2 separate regions of the Homo sapiens genome follow, and region 1 is linked to region 2. The links come from fine-mapping of genetic effects on gene expression. Tissue or cell type: whole blood. Region 2 holds a variant in brackets; the other region holds the start of a gene. All regions are shown on one strand. Distances are from middle to middle.

Region 1 (8,176 bases), 22 kb after region 2:
GCCTGGGTGACAGAGCAAGACTCAGTCTCAAAAAAAAAAAAAAAAAAAAAAAAAGATTGATAAAATAAATTAACAAGTATCTAAATAAATGGCATAAATGGCAAGATGTGTTCATGGATAGAAAGACTTAACATTAAAAATGTCAATACTACCCAAAACAATCTACAGATTCAACACAATGCTGATCAAAATTCCAACGTCTTTTCCCAAAGAAATGGAAGCAGATCCTCAAATTCATATGGAGTTTTAAGGGGCCCCCAATAACCAAAACAATACTGAAAGAGAAGAATAAAGTTAGAGGACTCACACTTTCCATCTGTGAACTTACTACAGAGCTATAGTAATTAAAACATATGGTACTTGCATAAGGATAGGCGTATAGATCAATGAAATAGAATACAGAACCGAGAAACAAACCCTCACATATATGATTAATTGATTTTTGACAAGGAAGCCAAGACCACTTAATGGGAAAAGGACAGTGTTTTCAACAAATGGTAGAGGGAAAACTGAATATCCATATGCAAAAAAATGAAGTTGGACCCTTCTACCACATACTAAAATTAAAATGGCCCAGGCCGGGTGCAGTGGCTCACACCTATGTGAGCACTTTGGGAAGCCAAGGCAGGTAGATTACTTGAGGTCAGGAGTTCGAGACCAGCCTGGCCAACATGGTGAAACCCCATCTCTTCTAAAAATACAAAAATTAACCCAGTGTGGTGGCATGCACCTGTAATCCCAAATACTCGGGAGGCTGAGGCATGAGAATCGGTTGAACCCGGCAGGTGGAGGTTGCAGTAAGCGGAGATCACACCACTGCACTCCAACCTGGGCGACAAAGTGAGACTCAGTCTCAAAAAATAAAATGAAATAAAATAAAGTGGCTCAAAGACTCAATTTAAGAGTTAAAACTATAAAACTCTTAGAAGAAAATATTGTTGAAAATCTTCATCACATTGGACTTGGCAACAACTGCATAAATAGGATACCAAAAGTACAAGGAAGAAAAAATAGTAGGTAAATTGAACTTCATCAAATTAAGAACTTTTGTGCACCAAAGGACACTATCAAGAAAGTGAAAAAACCTGGAGAATGGAAGAAAATATTTGCAGATCATATATCTAACAAGGGATTAATATTCAAAATATATATAGAACTCCTACAACTTGACAACAAAAAAACAAACAACCCAATTCAAAAATGGGCAAAGTACTTGAATAGACACTTCTCCAAAGAAGATATACTAATGGACAATAAATTCGTGGAAATATGCTCAACATCGTTAGTCATTGGGGAAATGCAGATTACAACCACAATGAGATGCCACTTCACACTAACCAGGATGGCCATAATCAAGAAAATGGATAATAAGTTTTGGTGGGGATGTGGAGAAATTGGAATCCTCCGTGCATTGCTGGTGGGAATGTACAATAGTGCAGTCATTGGGGAAAACAGTTTGGCAGTTCCTCAAAAGGTTAAAAATAGAACTACCAAGTCACCCAGCAATTCCATTCTTAGGCATATATTCAAAAGAAATGAAAGCAGATATTTGTACACCAGTGTTCACAGCTGCACTATTTACAATAGTCAAAAGGTAGAAACAACCTAGGTCCATCCACAAATGAATGGATAAATAAAACGTAGCATATACATACAATGGTACACTAGTCCGCTGTAAAAAGAAATTTTGATCTTACTGCATGCTACATGGCTTCGACATACTACAACATGGATGGACCTTGAAAACATTATTCTTTGTGAAATAAACTAGACACAGGACAAATGTTAGACGATTCCACTTATATGAGGCACCTAGAATGGGCAATTTGGTAAGCAAAGTAGAATAGAAATTACTAGGGGCACAGGTAGCAGGGAATGGGGAGTTACTGTTTAATGGTCACAGAGTTTATGTTGGGGATGATGAAACAGTTTCGGGGATAAAGAGTGGTGATTGGTACACGACATTGTGAATATACTTAATGCCACTGAATTTTACACTTGAAGTGGTTAAAGCGATAAATATTATAGTTTGCATATTTTATCATAAAAATATTTTTTTAAACGATGAAGGGACGTGAACGGGTTGAAATTTTATAAAAAGTGGCCAGGGAAGGTGTCACTGCAATGGTGTCCTACAGGAGGAGGAAGATCATGTGGACATCTGCGGGAAGGGTGTTCTGGCAGAGGGAGTAGCACGGGCGATGGCTCTGAGGACTGTGAGAAGTATAGTTGGAAACAGCGAGGAGGCCAGGGTGTCCGAAGCTGAGTAAGCCAGAGAGAGTGGGAGGAGGTGAGATAAGAGGGGGAAGGTCAGTTTCTGCTGAGAGTGAGGAGGAGCCACAGGAGGGCTGTGAGCAGGTGGACGTGATCTGGCTTGAGTTTTAACAGGGCCAGTAGAACAAAGCACGCCTGGGTACCGAAACCAGCCACTGGCCAGTTGGCAACCTGGGGGAGTCTAACGCGAGGAAGCGCCCAGGGTTCCCCCAGGATGCGCTTTCCCTCGCCGCCACCTGGAGACAGCAGAGTCACGCCCAGCGCTGCGCAGGCTGATCGCCGCGCCGCGCCCCCGCCCTCGGTCGCAGGTGGCTCGTTCCGGGAATTCCTAAGCGGAAACCGGTCCCAAGCCCCGCGCCTTCGCTCGGCCCCTTTAAGAGCCAGAATTTCCGGAGGGCTGACCCGGGGGCTAGGGATGCCCAGGGGCCGAACCACAAGTTGGGAACGGGTGGGGGAGGTGGCGAAAACTTCCGAAGTGGAATTCCAACTTTTCCTGGCCCTGATTCCCCTTGGGCATCCCTGAGGGGGCAGAGCTTCCCTTCCGGGGACTTTAGAGGGTTCCTCAGGTCATCTAACTGGGAGACACAGGAGGCCCGAAGCGCCCCCCCTCCACCCGGTCCGGAGGAACCCCAGTGGAAGTGGAGAAGTCAGGCGCCACCAACAAGCCTCTCCCAGCCAGGACTTTGCTTAGACTCGCTCCTCCCGGCAGGGCGCACCTAGGCGGGTCCATCGCCAGCCGGGGAGAGGGGTTTGGGCAGGGAGGGAACAGGTGCGCGGCGGGACCCGCCCTATCTCAACAGGTGAATCGCTCCAAGTGGGTCTCGGTTGCATGGATCTCGGTGCGCTTGGTTTGGCCGGAGCAGATGGGGGCCGGAAGGGACCTGTGGTCCGCAGGCGCCCTCCCAGCGGGCCAGTCACTTGGTTCGGGCCCTGGGGGACGGAGCGCACCTGGGTCAGCCCACTTCCGGGGAGGGAGGCAGAGGAACCCCTCCCCGCCGCTCACCCCTAAGCCCAGCCCTCGGCTCCCACCCTTGTGTACCTGGGCCGAACCATTCACCGGAGCGCGCAGCGGGTGGAGTGTGGCTCGGAGGACCGCGGCGGGTCAAGCACCTTTCTCCCCCATATCTGAAAGCATGCCCTTTGTCCACGTCGTTTACGCTCATTAAAACTTCCAGAATGCAACAGGACGGACTTGGAGTAGGGACAAGGAACGGAAGTGGGAAGGGGAGGAGCGTGCACCCCTCCTGGCCTTGGTGCGCGCCGCGCCCCCTAAGGTACTTTGGAAGGGACGCGCGGGCCAGACGCGCCCAGACGGCCGCGATGGCGCTGTTGGCCGGCGGGCTCTCCAGAGGGCTGGGCTCCCACCCGGCCGCCGCAGGCCGGGACGCGGTCGTCTTCGTGTGGCTTCTGCTTAGCACCTGGTGCACAGGTACGGGGCACGGGGCCTCTGACGCTGCGGAACGCCGGAGGGAACTGTAGAGGGGGATGGATGGAGTTGGAGGCGGCGGGAAGCGGGAAGCGGGGGTCTCAGAGGCTGGGACCTTCCGATCCCCTGGGTCTTGGGCGATCTGTTGCGCGCGGGAGTGAGAGGAATTCCCCATTTGTGCCGGGGAGCGCTCCCCGCGCCCTTATCTGGAAGATAGCAGGAAGTGAAACTCCCTGGACGGTGAGACCCGGAGCGGCAGGGAGAATGGAACTCTTTGTGGGGAGGGAGTGGAAGACCGCCCGATCTCTGGGAAAAGAAAAGCCGGGATGGGACTTGGGCGCACCCGGGGATTTCTAAGTTTTGGAGTAACGGGGAGAGGGCACGGGAGGGCTGGATCAGACGCTTCCTAGAGGGACAGAGACGAAGGAACAATGCCTAGGCCTCGGGTGGGTGTGGGACTGGGGACTCCCCATCCCCCGCACCCCACCCACCTCCCGCGGGCTCCGGATTATACGTGCGTAAGAGTCTGGTGGGATGGATTTACGGACTTGAAACCGACTTCTGCTGGCAGGCTTTCACCTGGATGGGATATTTGGGTGGTGATGAGGTCTTTCCCGAGACACTTTTGGTTCAGTCATTTGAAATGACTTTAGAGTAGGGTGAGGTGGTGGGAGGCTGATGGAGATATTGTGGGGGCTTTAGTCCCTCCATGGCAAAGCAGTTCAGGCAAACAACTCCATGGTTTTCCCTCCAAATTCAAAAGGCCCCGGGTAACCTGGAATCCTTCGTAGTCGGTTTTGAAGTGGGGCCTTGGGCGCTGGGGGCATCAACATGGCCATCTGGGCTTGCCTGCCCAGGCCACACAGAGGCCCCTTGTTGTGGGTGAATGGCAAAGGGAAGAGGGGACTGGTGTGGTTCAGAGGCCACAGGCTGGGAAGAGGGATGGCGGGCGAGTCCAAGGAAACTGGCCGTGTCACCGTGCACCTGCCACTTCAGCCCCACGGGTCTATAAAATGGGCATGATTATCGTGGCTACCTCACTGGTCCTGGCAATTAAGGAACAATGTGTGCCAGGCACTCTGTAAACCACATACTTGCGAGTGTCAAGCTGGTGACAGGTGGCGTTCCTGTTGAAGCACCTCCCTGAGCTCACAGCAACCCTTGCTGTCTCTCCTCTTGCCCTCAGCTCCTGCCAGGGCCATCCAGGTGACCGTGTCCAACCCCTACCACGTGGTGATCCTCTTCCAGCCTGTGACCCTGCCCTGTACCTACCAGATGACCTCGACCCCCACGCAACCCATCGTCATCTGGAAGTACAAGTCTTTCTGCCGGGACCGCATCGCCGATGCCTTCTCCCCGGCCAGCGTCGACAACCAGCTCAATGCCCAGCTGGCAGCCGGGAACCCAGGCTACAACCCCTACGTTGAGTGCCAGGACAGCGTGCGCACCGTCAGGGTCGTGGCCACCAAGCAGGGCAACGCTGTGACCCTGGGAGATTACTACCAGGGCCGGAGGATTACCATCACCGGAAGTATGTTGGGCAGGGCAGGGGGATGAGGCTGGGCTTGCCCGGGTGGTGGGACTGGCGTCCTTGTGCGGGACCTGGAGTCCCCATCTGAAAGCTCTTGAGTGCCAGTGTCTGAAAGGACCATTGAAGGGAGCAATTCTTTTTTTTTTTTTTTTTGAAGATGGAGTCTTGCTCTGGACTCCAGGCTGGAGTGCAGTGGTGCGATCTCAGCTCACTGCAACCTCCACCTCCCAGGTTCAAGCAATTCTCTTGCCTCAGCCTCCCGAGTAGCTGGGACTCCAGGTGCGTGCCACCACGCCCAGTTAATTTTTGTATTTTTAGTAGAGATGGGGTTTCACCATGTTGGCCAGGCTGGTCTCAAACTCCTGACCTCAAATGATCTGCCCGCCTTGGCCTCGCAAAGTGCTGAGAGACACCATACCCAGCCTAAAGGGAGCGATTCTATTCTACTATTCTTCCTTCTGCTAATCCTTCCATTCTTTAATTTAATAACGAAGATTTTTTGAGTACCTGTCATATACCAGGTGCTGTTCTGGGCCCTGGGAATACAGCTGTTAACAAAATCATCAAACCACTTCCCTCGTGGAGCCCACATTGCAGTGAGAGAGACAAACACGACACACACTCTCAAGTCCTTGAAGATAAAGAAAACTGGGTAACGGAGAGAAGAGGCCAGGGTTTGTTCTATAATCATTAATAACACGAGCAGTAAGAAGTAAAATTTATCTAAGTAACAACTTATAAAGGGTCTACTGTGTGCTAAGCTCTCATCCAGGTTCCCAAGGATTAACTCAGACCACACAGTAATTGAATAGATTCTATCATTGTCATCTTACAGAGGCCCAGAGAGAGAAAGTGACTTGCCTAGTGTCATAGCTGGTAACGGGGCTGGGATTCTAACTCAGCCACTTTGGGTCTAGTGGCCAAGCTCCTAATCCCTTTGCTTGCCTAGGGTGGTCCGCAGAGGACTCACAGAGGAGATGGCAGGAGTGAACTGCAGGGGCAAGAGAGCTTAATGGAGAAAGCCTGTGACATGCCAGGAACTGCACACATATTCTCCCATTGAGTCCTCTCCTCTACCCTCCTGACAGCTGAGGCACAGAGAGGTTACCTTGTTCAAATGGGTGCATAGGAAGTCAAAGTCTGGAGCTGGGGTTTGAACCCAGGCAGCCCTGAGAACCTTGTTCTTTTTTTTTGAGACGGAGTCTCGCTCTGTCGCCCAGGCTGGAGTGCAGTGGCGGGATCTCGGCTCACTGCAAGCTCCGCCTCCCGGGTTCACGCCATTCTCCTGCCTCAGCCTCCCAAGTAGCTGGGACTACAGGCGCCCGCCACTACGCCCGGCTAATTTTTTGTATTTTTAGTAGAGACGGGGTTTCACCGTTTTAGCCGGGATGGTCTCGATCTCCTGACCTCGTGATCCGCCCGCCTCGGCCTCCCAAAGTGCTGGGATTACAGGCGTGAGCCACCGCGCCCGGCCCCTTGTTCTTAACTGTAATGCTGCCTCCTGATAGGATGTGCCTGTTGGGACTAAGTAAGGGGCAGTCATTCATTCATTCATTTGGTATTTATCAAGCATCGACTATGTGTCGTTGGTGCTGGGGATAGAGGTGATTGGGATGGCTGAAGTTTCTGTCGTCAAGGAGATGACATTCTGGTGGAGTGAGACTGGCAGTAAATAAGCAGATAAAGAAAGAGTATGAGAATTTCAAAGTCTGGGCACGGTGGCTCACGTCTGTAATCTCAGCACTTTGGGAGGCCAAGGTGGGTGGATCACCTGAGGTCAGGAGTTCCAGACCAGCCTGGCCAACATGGTGAAACCCCGTCTCTACTAAAAATACAAAGATTAGCCAGGCATGGTGGCACATGCCTGTAATCCCAGCTACTCAGGAGGCTGAGGCATGAGAATCGCTTGAACCCAGGAGGCAGAGGTTGCAGTGAGCTGAGATCGCACCACTGTACTGCAGTCTGGGCGACAGAGTGAGACTCTGTCTCAAAAAAAAAAAAAAAAAAAAAGACTCCGTCAAGGTATAAGAATGTCAGAGAGTACTAAGTGTTGCAAAGAAAATAACACCAGGCTGGGTGCATTGGCTCATGCCTGTAAATTTCAGCACTTTGGGAGGCCAAGGCAGGAGGATCACTTGAGCCTAGGAGTTTGAGACCAGCCTGGACAACAAAATGAGACCCCATGTCTACAAAAATTTTAAAAATTTAAAAATTAGCTGGGCATGGTGGCATGTGCCTGTGGTCCCGGCTGCTCAGGAGGCTGAGGTGGGAGGATTGCTTGGGCTTGAGAGGTCAAGGCTTCAGTGAGTCATGATCGTGCCACTGCATTCCAGCCTGGGTGACAGAGTGAGACCCTGTCTTGAAATGAAAAGAAAATAGGCTGGGCGCAGTGGCTCACACCTGTAATCCCAGCACTTTGGGAGGCCGAGGTGGGTGGATCACCTGAGGTCAGGAGATCGAGACCAGCCTGGCCAACATGGTGAAATCCCATCTCTACTAAAAATACAAAATTTAGCCGGGCGTGGTGGTGGGCGCCTGTAATCCCAGCTACTCGGGAGGCTGAGGCAGGAGAATCGCTTGAACCTGGGAGGCGAAGGTTGCGGTGCGCCAAGATTGCGCCACTGCACTCTAGCCTGGGAAACAGTGAGACTCCGTCTTAAAAAAAAAAGAAAAAAGAAAATAGCACTGGGTGATGTGCTACATGGAATGACTTGGGCTGTGAATATGATTTGAGGAGGGCCTGGGCCTGGGCCTTACAGAACCTAGAAGGCAGAGAGGAAGGGGAGGGGCAGGGTGCCAGGGATGAAGGCTCACGTACCTCATGTCTTAGTGTGTGTTCACTGTCTTAAACAAGAATTTAAAGTTGGGCATGGGGCAGAGCGGGGAAGGGAGCATCCCTTTGCAGACCCCAAGAAGCCAGGAACTGGAGCACATTCTGCTAGAGG
Region 2 (8,176 bases):
CCTGGAGGCCACCCACAGCTCCCTACCACGTGGACTTCCTCAATGTGGCTGCTTACTTCATCAAGCCAGCAAGGCTCCCTCCCTCTGATCTTCTAAGACAGAGTCTTAGATAACATAAGGCAAGCTAGGGAGTGACAGCTCAACACCTTTACTGTGTGCTATTGGTTAGATGCAAGGTCACAGGTCTGTCCACACTGGAGGAGAGGGGATCATACAAGGCATGGACACCAGGAGGTGGGAAGTCACTGGGGTCACCTTAGGAGCTGCCCTGACAGCCTTGGAGCACTGGGGCACTGACAGCCTCTGCTATGGGTTGTGAGACTTCAGTGCTGCGAAGAACAAACCCCTTGAGTGTGGGACCCGTGCTTGACTCTCTCTGTCCCACCTCCAGCTCCCATACAATGGGGGCTTCTATGGGTTGCAGGCATTGGGGGGCTCCCTGGGACCTGGGGTGGGCGCTTCAGGTCTCCTTTCACCTTCCAACCACTGGCCCCTTCCCAAGCTCACTGTGTGACCTCAGGCAAGTTGCTTGAAGCTTCTGAGTCTTGATGTTCTCAGCTGCAAAACAAGGTTAACAGTAGCACCAGCCTCTTGGGTGATCGTGGGGACATAGCACTTACAAAGGGTTTGAGTTTTGACCTCACCAGGAAGTCCCCAAATGTTTGCTATGATTATCATTATTATTGTCTACCTCTGGTTCCCAGGGAGGCCTCTTTAGTTCTCAGGGAACGCTCCCTCATTCTGCAGGAATCTTTGAGCATCTGGGCACCACATGAAGCCTTAAGTGTTTTGGCAACAGTGTCTGGTACACGAAGGATGAGCCCTGCCCTATCCTGGGGGCAGAGGTTCTGTTCTGGGAGAGTTTCATCTCTGTCCAGTCATGGCTTCACTGCACTATTAGGGCAATGAATTTTAATGGCATGAATTATTTTTCACTCTTGCACTCTGCTGAACAGTGTGTGATTTCTGGGAACAGTCAGGCCTGGTGATTCCTGCAGGTCAGCTGAGCCAGGCCTGGCACCTTGTACCAGCAAAAGGGCCTGTCTCCCCTTCCAAGGGCCTGAGGGGCCTCACTCCACCACAAGAGCCTGGAAAAGTGGCGCGTGTCTGGCAGTGCCTCTGACTTGGGGAGTGGTGGCTGGGCCTGAAGGCCTGGGCACAGTGGGGAGGGTGGGCAAGGGATGGGCAGGAAAAGACAGCAGGGCCCAGGGCAGATCTGGGGAGCCTAGAGGTGTCCTGCTCATATCCCCCATCTTGTAGTTGGGGGAATGGGATGAGTGAGGAGGCTATGAGTTACCACCTTTAGGGAGACACCCCAAGAATGGCCTGGTTCCATCTCTCCCTCCTTCTGAAGAACACAGGGCTTGGGACAGGCAACCTGGTTTGAACTAGAATCACCAGCCTCAGTTTCCTCATCTGTTCTATGGAAATTACTAATGAGTTAACAGAGCAGCACCTGACCCAGGGAAGAGCTCGGTCACCCTGGGCTACGGGGCACCGGGGCGGAAGTGACAGAAGGGGCGGCTGTGGCTAAGAGAGAACCGGAGGCCGGGTCCGCTTGTGCACCGGGGGCTCGCTTTATTTCACCACCAGCACCTGTGTGCTTCTCCTGCCCGGGGAAGGGTGGATGCACTTGAGCAGCGCCCCCAGCAGGGCCAGGACGGTGACCACGAGCAGCACCAGCTTCAGCCCCTTGAGCACGGAGTCCGCCCTGCCCCGCAGGGCCTTCCTTGCCTCCCGCCACTGGGCATCGTTCTCTCTCCACTGAGCCTCCAGCGTCTCCAGACTGGCGGCGGGTTTGAACTGGGCCACGAGCTCCTGCTGCACGAAGCACTTGTAGACGGCCGGCTGGAAAACCTGCAGCTGCCTGCCGCCGGTGGAGGGGTCCAGAAAGGTGGTGAAGTCCTGGCCGGAGAGCTGGCTCTCCCACGTCAGGGGGGTGTCGTTGGCACGCCAGTTGACGGGCCTGCGAGGAGGACAAGGTCAGGTGCAGGGCCAGGGAGAAAGGAGGGACCGACGTCTCCCTGAGGAACAGAAAATAAAGCACCGCCCAGTCCCCCTCCTCGCCACCCCCCACGGAGCACTGTGCAGCCGTCAACAGTGGGGTGGAGGAGGCACAGCTGGGGGCTCCCAGGGCTCCACCCGTTACTGGCCCCACCCCTTACTGGCTCCCCTCTTCCTGGCTCCACCCCTTACTGGCCCCACCCCTTACTGGCTGGGTGACCTGGGCAAATGCCTCCAGCTCTTTGAACTTCCATTTCTTTATGTAAAACTAAGAGTCTAGACCAGGCTTGGTGGCTCACACCTGTAATCCCAACACTTTCAGAGGCAAAGGCAAGGAGGATGGCTTGAGCCCAGGAGTTCAGAACCAGCCTGGACAACAAAGCAAGAACCCATGTCTGCAAAAATTTAAAAAATTAGCTGGACATGCTGACATGCGCCTGTGGTCCTGGCTGCTCAGGAGGCTGAGGTGGGAGGATTACTTGAGCCCAGGAGGTTGAGGCTGCAGTGAGCCAGTCACAGCACTGCACTCCAGCCTGGGTGACAGAGCAAGACCCTGTCCCAAAAAAGAAAACAACAAACCAAAAAAAATGGAGAGTAATGATTGTACCTCATAAGGTTATTTGGAGGAGTTAGCAAGGGCACTCCTTAAATGATTTGTCCACCTGCCTTTGCCTGTCTGGTCTCATCTCCTTCACTCTCCCCTTTACTCACTCTGCCTAGCCACGCTGCTCTCCTAGATGTTCCTCTGACATGCTGGGTGCAGTCTTGGCCCTGGCTGTTCCCTCTGTCCCCAGGGCTTCCTCGCCTCCTTTCAGTCTGGGCTGAAATGGCAGCTTCTCAGAGGAGCCTTCCCTGACCCCACCACTTGACACTTTTAACCTCCCCTATTCCCAGCATCCCTTCCTGCTCCGTCACCATCCAAAATACTATAGGTCGGGCACAGTGGCTCAGGTTTGTAATCCCAGCACTTTGGGAGGCCGATGTGGGAGGATCACTTGAGCCCAGGAGTTTGGGCTCAGCCTGGGCAACAAAGTGAGACCTCATCTCTACAAAACTTAAAAACTTAGCCGGGTGTGGTAGTGCATGTCTGTAGTCCCAGCTACTGTGGAGGCTGAGATGGGAGAATCACCTGAGCCCGGGGAATTGAGGCTGCAGTGAGCTGTGATTGTGCCACTGTACTCCAGCCAGGGTGAAAGAGCAAGACCCTGTCTCTAATAATAATAACAATAATAATAATAAAACTATATATTTATGCGCCACAAGGGCAAGAATCTCCGTTGGTTGTGTTCTTCACTGTTTCCCAGGTCCCTAGAATGGAGCTTGGCATATAAATATGCAGTGAACACGTGTTTAGTGGAGAAATGAATCAGGCACCGACACACCCAGCGTGGTGGAAGAACAGAGAGGATATTCCACAGACAATATCATAAAAGCTTGCATTCCCAGCTAGGTACATTGTGGAACTTCTTATTGGATGCTATGGCAGGCACTCTACAGTCTTTAGTCCCCTTAACACATCACAATGACCCTGTGTGGCCAGGGGCTGGCAAGACCTCTGCACTGAGTTAGACAGTGGCCCCCGCAAAATGCATGTCCTTCCCAGAACCTCAGAATGTAACATTATTTGGAAATTGGATCATTGCAGATATAATCAGTTGAGATGAGAGCATATTGGAATAAGGTGGGCCCTCAATCCCATCTGACCGGTGTCCTTTTAAGAAAAGGAAAAGAGAGACAGGGACACAGACACCCAGGAAGAATGCCAAGTGATGATGGAGGCGGGCATTGGAGAGAAGCAGCCACAAGCCAGAGAAGACCGGGATCTCTGACTGCATCCAGAAGCTAGAAAAA[A/G]GGAGGATTCTGCCCAGCTCACTCAGAGGGACTGAGAGGGAGCGTGGTTCTACTGACACCTTGATTTCAGACTTACGGCCTCCAGAAGGGTGAGACAATGGATTTCTGGGGTTTTTTTGTTTTTTTGTTTTTTGAGTCAGAGTTGTCTCGTGATGTTGCCCAGGCTGGAGTGCAGTGGTGTGATCTCGGCTCACTGCAACCTCCGCCTCCCGGGTTCAAGTGATTCTCCTGCGTCAGCCTCCTGAGTAGCTGGGATTACAGGCACGTGCCACCATACCTGGCTAATTTTTGTATTTCTAGTAGAGACGGGGTTTCACCATGTTGGCCAGGCTGGTCTCGAACTCCTGACCTCAGGTGATCCACCCACCTCGGCCTCCCAAAGTGCTGGGATTACAGGCATGAGCCACCGCGCCCAGCCTGCATTTCTTATTAAGGGGCAGGTGGACTGGGGGAGAGGAGGGGAAGGGGCTATTTTCCAGAGGCTCCTGGCAGGAAGTAAGAAGATGAGTGTGAGTTCTGGGAGGCAGGCCTTGATGGGAAGCCCCGGGGGCACCAGCCTCTCCTCCAAGGTCTCACTGACCTTTCCAGATGAAGCAGGGGCCTGTTGGAGCCCCTAAGCTTCCTGGGCTTCCCCCATCACAGCCCCATCTGTCTGCCTGGGCTTCTCCCATCCCGGCTCGCACCACCCTGGGCTGTGTCCCCCTCGGACTGTTTAAGAGCAGGGCCTGGCACTGTCCTGATGACCACTACGTGGCTGAACTGCAAAGAACGCCCACTCATCCCTCTGCACATATTACCAGGAAGGATCCCCTGACCGGAAGAATCTGGGTAGGGGCCAGAGGCAGGGATTCCATCACCTGTACATGGATCCTAAGGGACAGTCGAGCCACACAAATTCTGTCTTCTCATCGAGCCTGAAGTTGTCAAAAATGACGTAATCCACCCTTAACTGTGTGTTATTGGTGCACTGGACGTGGCAGGCTTCCACCTGCAGCTCAGGCCGCAAGCGGCTAGACCACACCAGCACCTCTCCCAGATAGAGCCAGCAGGGCATGGCTTCCTCCAGAGGCTCCTCAATGTAGCGGTACCCCAGGCGTTTACACTCGCCCGGCTCCTCACAGCGGTTGCAGTCCTGCCAGGGCTCCCACCAGGTAAAAATGAGCTGTTTGCTGCCCAAATGCAGGGTCTCGTTCTGCAGGGGCCTCTGACCCAGGTCCTTGTGTGTTATATGCAGGGTGGTGACATCCTGAAAGTCAATTTCATACTGCACCACTTGGCGGCCATTCTTGTTCCAGCAGTGGTAGAGGCCCGTCTGGGAGGGCAATGGATCTTTAATGAGAAGGCTGCCCTCGGGCATTATTTCCATATTGGAAATATTGGTGAGGCTGGTGAGCCTGCCCTTCTTGCCTTGTGTGAATAAATAGTACCAGTGCGCCCCCGAGGAGTTGCAATACAGGAGAATATCATTGCCTGAGAGTAGGGCCTGTTGGCACTGCTTACCACTGGGGCAGCTGATGGAAAAGTAGAACCCCAGTGCCGGGGCAGCAAAGTGGAGCAGCAGCCACAGCATGGGTGGCATGGTGGACTGGGGCTGTGGCAGTGGGCTGGTGCCACCCCGAACATTGTGAGGTCACCCATGAACTCTGGCCTCAGCCCTGGGCAGTGGGATGAATTGCAGCTACCACATGTGTGTGTGAGGTCACCATCCCCTTTTGTTTTGTGACAAGCTGACAACACTGTTTTTCTTTTTTTTTTTTTTTTCAGACAAGGACTCGCTCTTTTACCCAGGCTGGAAGGCAGTGCTGCAATCACAGCTCACTACAGCCTCAAACTCCTGGAATCAAGTAATCCTCTCACCTCAGCCTGTTGAGTAGCTGGGACTTCAGGTGCATGCTAACCATGCCCAGCTAGTTTAAAATTTTTTCTGTAGAGACGGGGTCTTGTTATGTTGCCCAAGCTGGTCTCGAACTCCTGGCTTCAAGCCATCCTCCCACCTTGGCCTCCCAAAGTGTTGGGATTACAGGCGTGAGCCACTGTGCCCCGCTGACCATATTTAATTTCTATTCCAAGCCCTCCATTTTGCTGGGAAAGGAGCAAACTTAATTTGTCTATTCAGAGTTTTCTCTACTACCTGCCCCGCTTCCTTTCCCAGGGGTGAGACTACATTCCCAGGGATGAAATAAGAGCATGAAGGTGTCACATGTGAACACTCAACACATATTTCCTGAACTCTTACTATGTTCTGGGCACACTTCTTAGCACTGGGGATAAAGCAGTAAACAAATCCTCTCGGGCTGGGCTCGGTGGCTCATGCCTGTAATCCCAGCACTTTTGGGAGGCTGAGGCGGGCGGATCACCTGAGGTCAGGAGTTCAAGACCAGCCTGGCCAACGTGGTGAAACCCCGTCTCTACTAAATAGCTGGGTGTGGTGGCGGGCATCTGTAATCCCAGCTACTCAGGAGGCTGAGGCAGGAGAATCACTTGAACCTGGGAGACGGAGGTTGCAGTGAGCCGAGATCGCACCGCTGCACTCCAGCCTGGGTGACAAGCGTGAAACTCCATCTCAAAAAAAATAATAAAAATTTAAAAAAATTTATCTCTGGTTACTGTTCTGACCTCCTGCACCTTTCCCCCTACTCCCTACCCTCCAACCACGCTGGCCTCCCGCTGTTCCCTGAATCTGTCAGGCAGGCAGAGGGGCTCTTGCCCCAGAACCATTGCACATGCTGGTCCCCGTCTCTTCCCTCAGCCATCTGCATGACTCAATACATCTTCAACAAATATTTTTCTCAGTTGCTCCCTTTCCTTCCATCCCCTTTTCTAAACACCTTCTCAGGCGGTGGCTCACACCTGTAATGCCAGCACTTGCCAGCACTTTGGGTGGCCAAGATGGGAGAATCACTTGAGGTCAGGAATTCGAGGCCAGCCTGGCCAACACGGTGAAGCCCCATCTCTACTAAAAATACAAAAAATTAGCCAGGCATGGTGTCGGGCATCTGTAATCCCAGCTACTCAGGTGGCCGAGGCAGAAGAATAGCTTGAACCCAGGAGGCAGAGGTTGCAGTGAGTGCAGATTGCGCCACTGCACTCCAGCCTGGGTGACAGAGACACTGCCTCAAATAAATAAATAAATAAATAAATAAATTAAATGATCTTCCAGACTTTTCCCAACATAGAAAAAGATGGAAGATTTCTATGAGACTTGCATCACCTTATCTCAAAACCTTATAAGGACATTACAACAAAGAAAAACCTCAGGTCAATCTCTTTTGTCAACACAGACACACTATCCCAAAGAAAATATTGCAAATTGATTCCAGTGATTTTCTTTACACAAGGATAAATATAAAGACCAAATTGGGTTATTTCAGGACGGCAAATTTGGGTTATATTTGCACATCAATTAATGTAATTCACCACATTAACAGAATAAAGGAGAAAAACCATATTATTATCTCAGTAGATACAGAGAATGCATCTGATAAAACTCAACATTCATTTATGGCTCAAAACTTTTGGCAAACTAGGAACAAAAGGAAATTTTCTAAGAAGATAAAGTGTTTCTATTAAAAACCTAGGACAGGCCGGGTACAGTGGCTCACACCTGTAATCCCAGCACTTTGGAAGGCCGAGGCGGGTGGATCACCTGAAGTCAGGAGTTCGAGACCAGTTAGGGTAACATGGCGAAACCCTATCTCTACTAAAAATACAAAAATTAGCCGGGTGTGATGGTGGGTGCCTGTAGTCCCAGCTACTTGGGAGGCTGAGGCAGGAGAATCATTTGAACCCAGGAGGCGAAGGTTGCAGTGAACTGAGATTGCGCCATTGCACTCCAGCCTGGGCAACAGAGTGAGACCCTGTCTCAAAAAAAAAACAAAAAACAAACAAACAAACAAAAACACCTAGGGCTAAATTATACTTCATAGTAAAATACTAAGAATAACACAAGTATTTCTGCCATCAACTTTTCCATTCAGCATTTTACTGGAGGTAAGATACAAGCAAAAAATTAGATATAAGGTCATATATTAAATATGATTTATATACCAGCAACAAAGAATTAAAAGATGAAACTTAAAAGATTACTATAGGATAGTATGAAAAAATTAAATACCTAGGAATAAATATAATAAAAGATATGTGAGTCCTCTACATTAATAACTTCACATTATTGGGAGAAATTAAAGAAAGACTAAACAATGGAAGTATTTGCCACATTCACGGATTGGAAGACTAAATATTGAATATATATTGATTTACCCCAAATTTATCTTTAGATTCAATAAAGTCCCAATTAAAAAAAAATAAGAGTTTTGGGGTG

What was found. PIP is the estimated chance that this variant, and not a neighbour inherited with it, causes the effect.
Region 1: LSR starts here. The variant in region 2 is fine-mapped to the expression of LSR in whole blood (TOPMed, PIP above 0.99).

Annotation. Positions count from the first base shown.
Region 1 is chr19:35,245,429-35,253,604 of GRCh38, forward strand. LSR (lipolysis stimulated lipoprotein receptor) reads left to right here and starts at 3,574. Exons shown (of 10, transcript NM_205834.4): 1 at 3,574-3,703; 2 at 4,887-5,231. The coding sequence starts at 3,595. RefSeq lists enhancers at 2,158-2,327, 2,461-3,263, 3,264-4,065 and silencers at 3,178-3,257, 3,668-3,737.
Region 2 is chr19:35,223,247-35,231,422 of GRCh38, forward strand. It overlaps FAM187B (family with sequence similarity 187 member B), which reads right to left and starts at 5,493. Exons shown (of 2, transcript NM_152481.2): 1 at 4,713-5,493; 2 at 1,554-1,966. The coding sequence starts at 5,434. The coding sequence ends at 1,579. The variant A/G (reference allele first, on the strand shown) is at 3,856.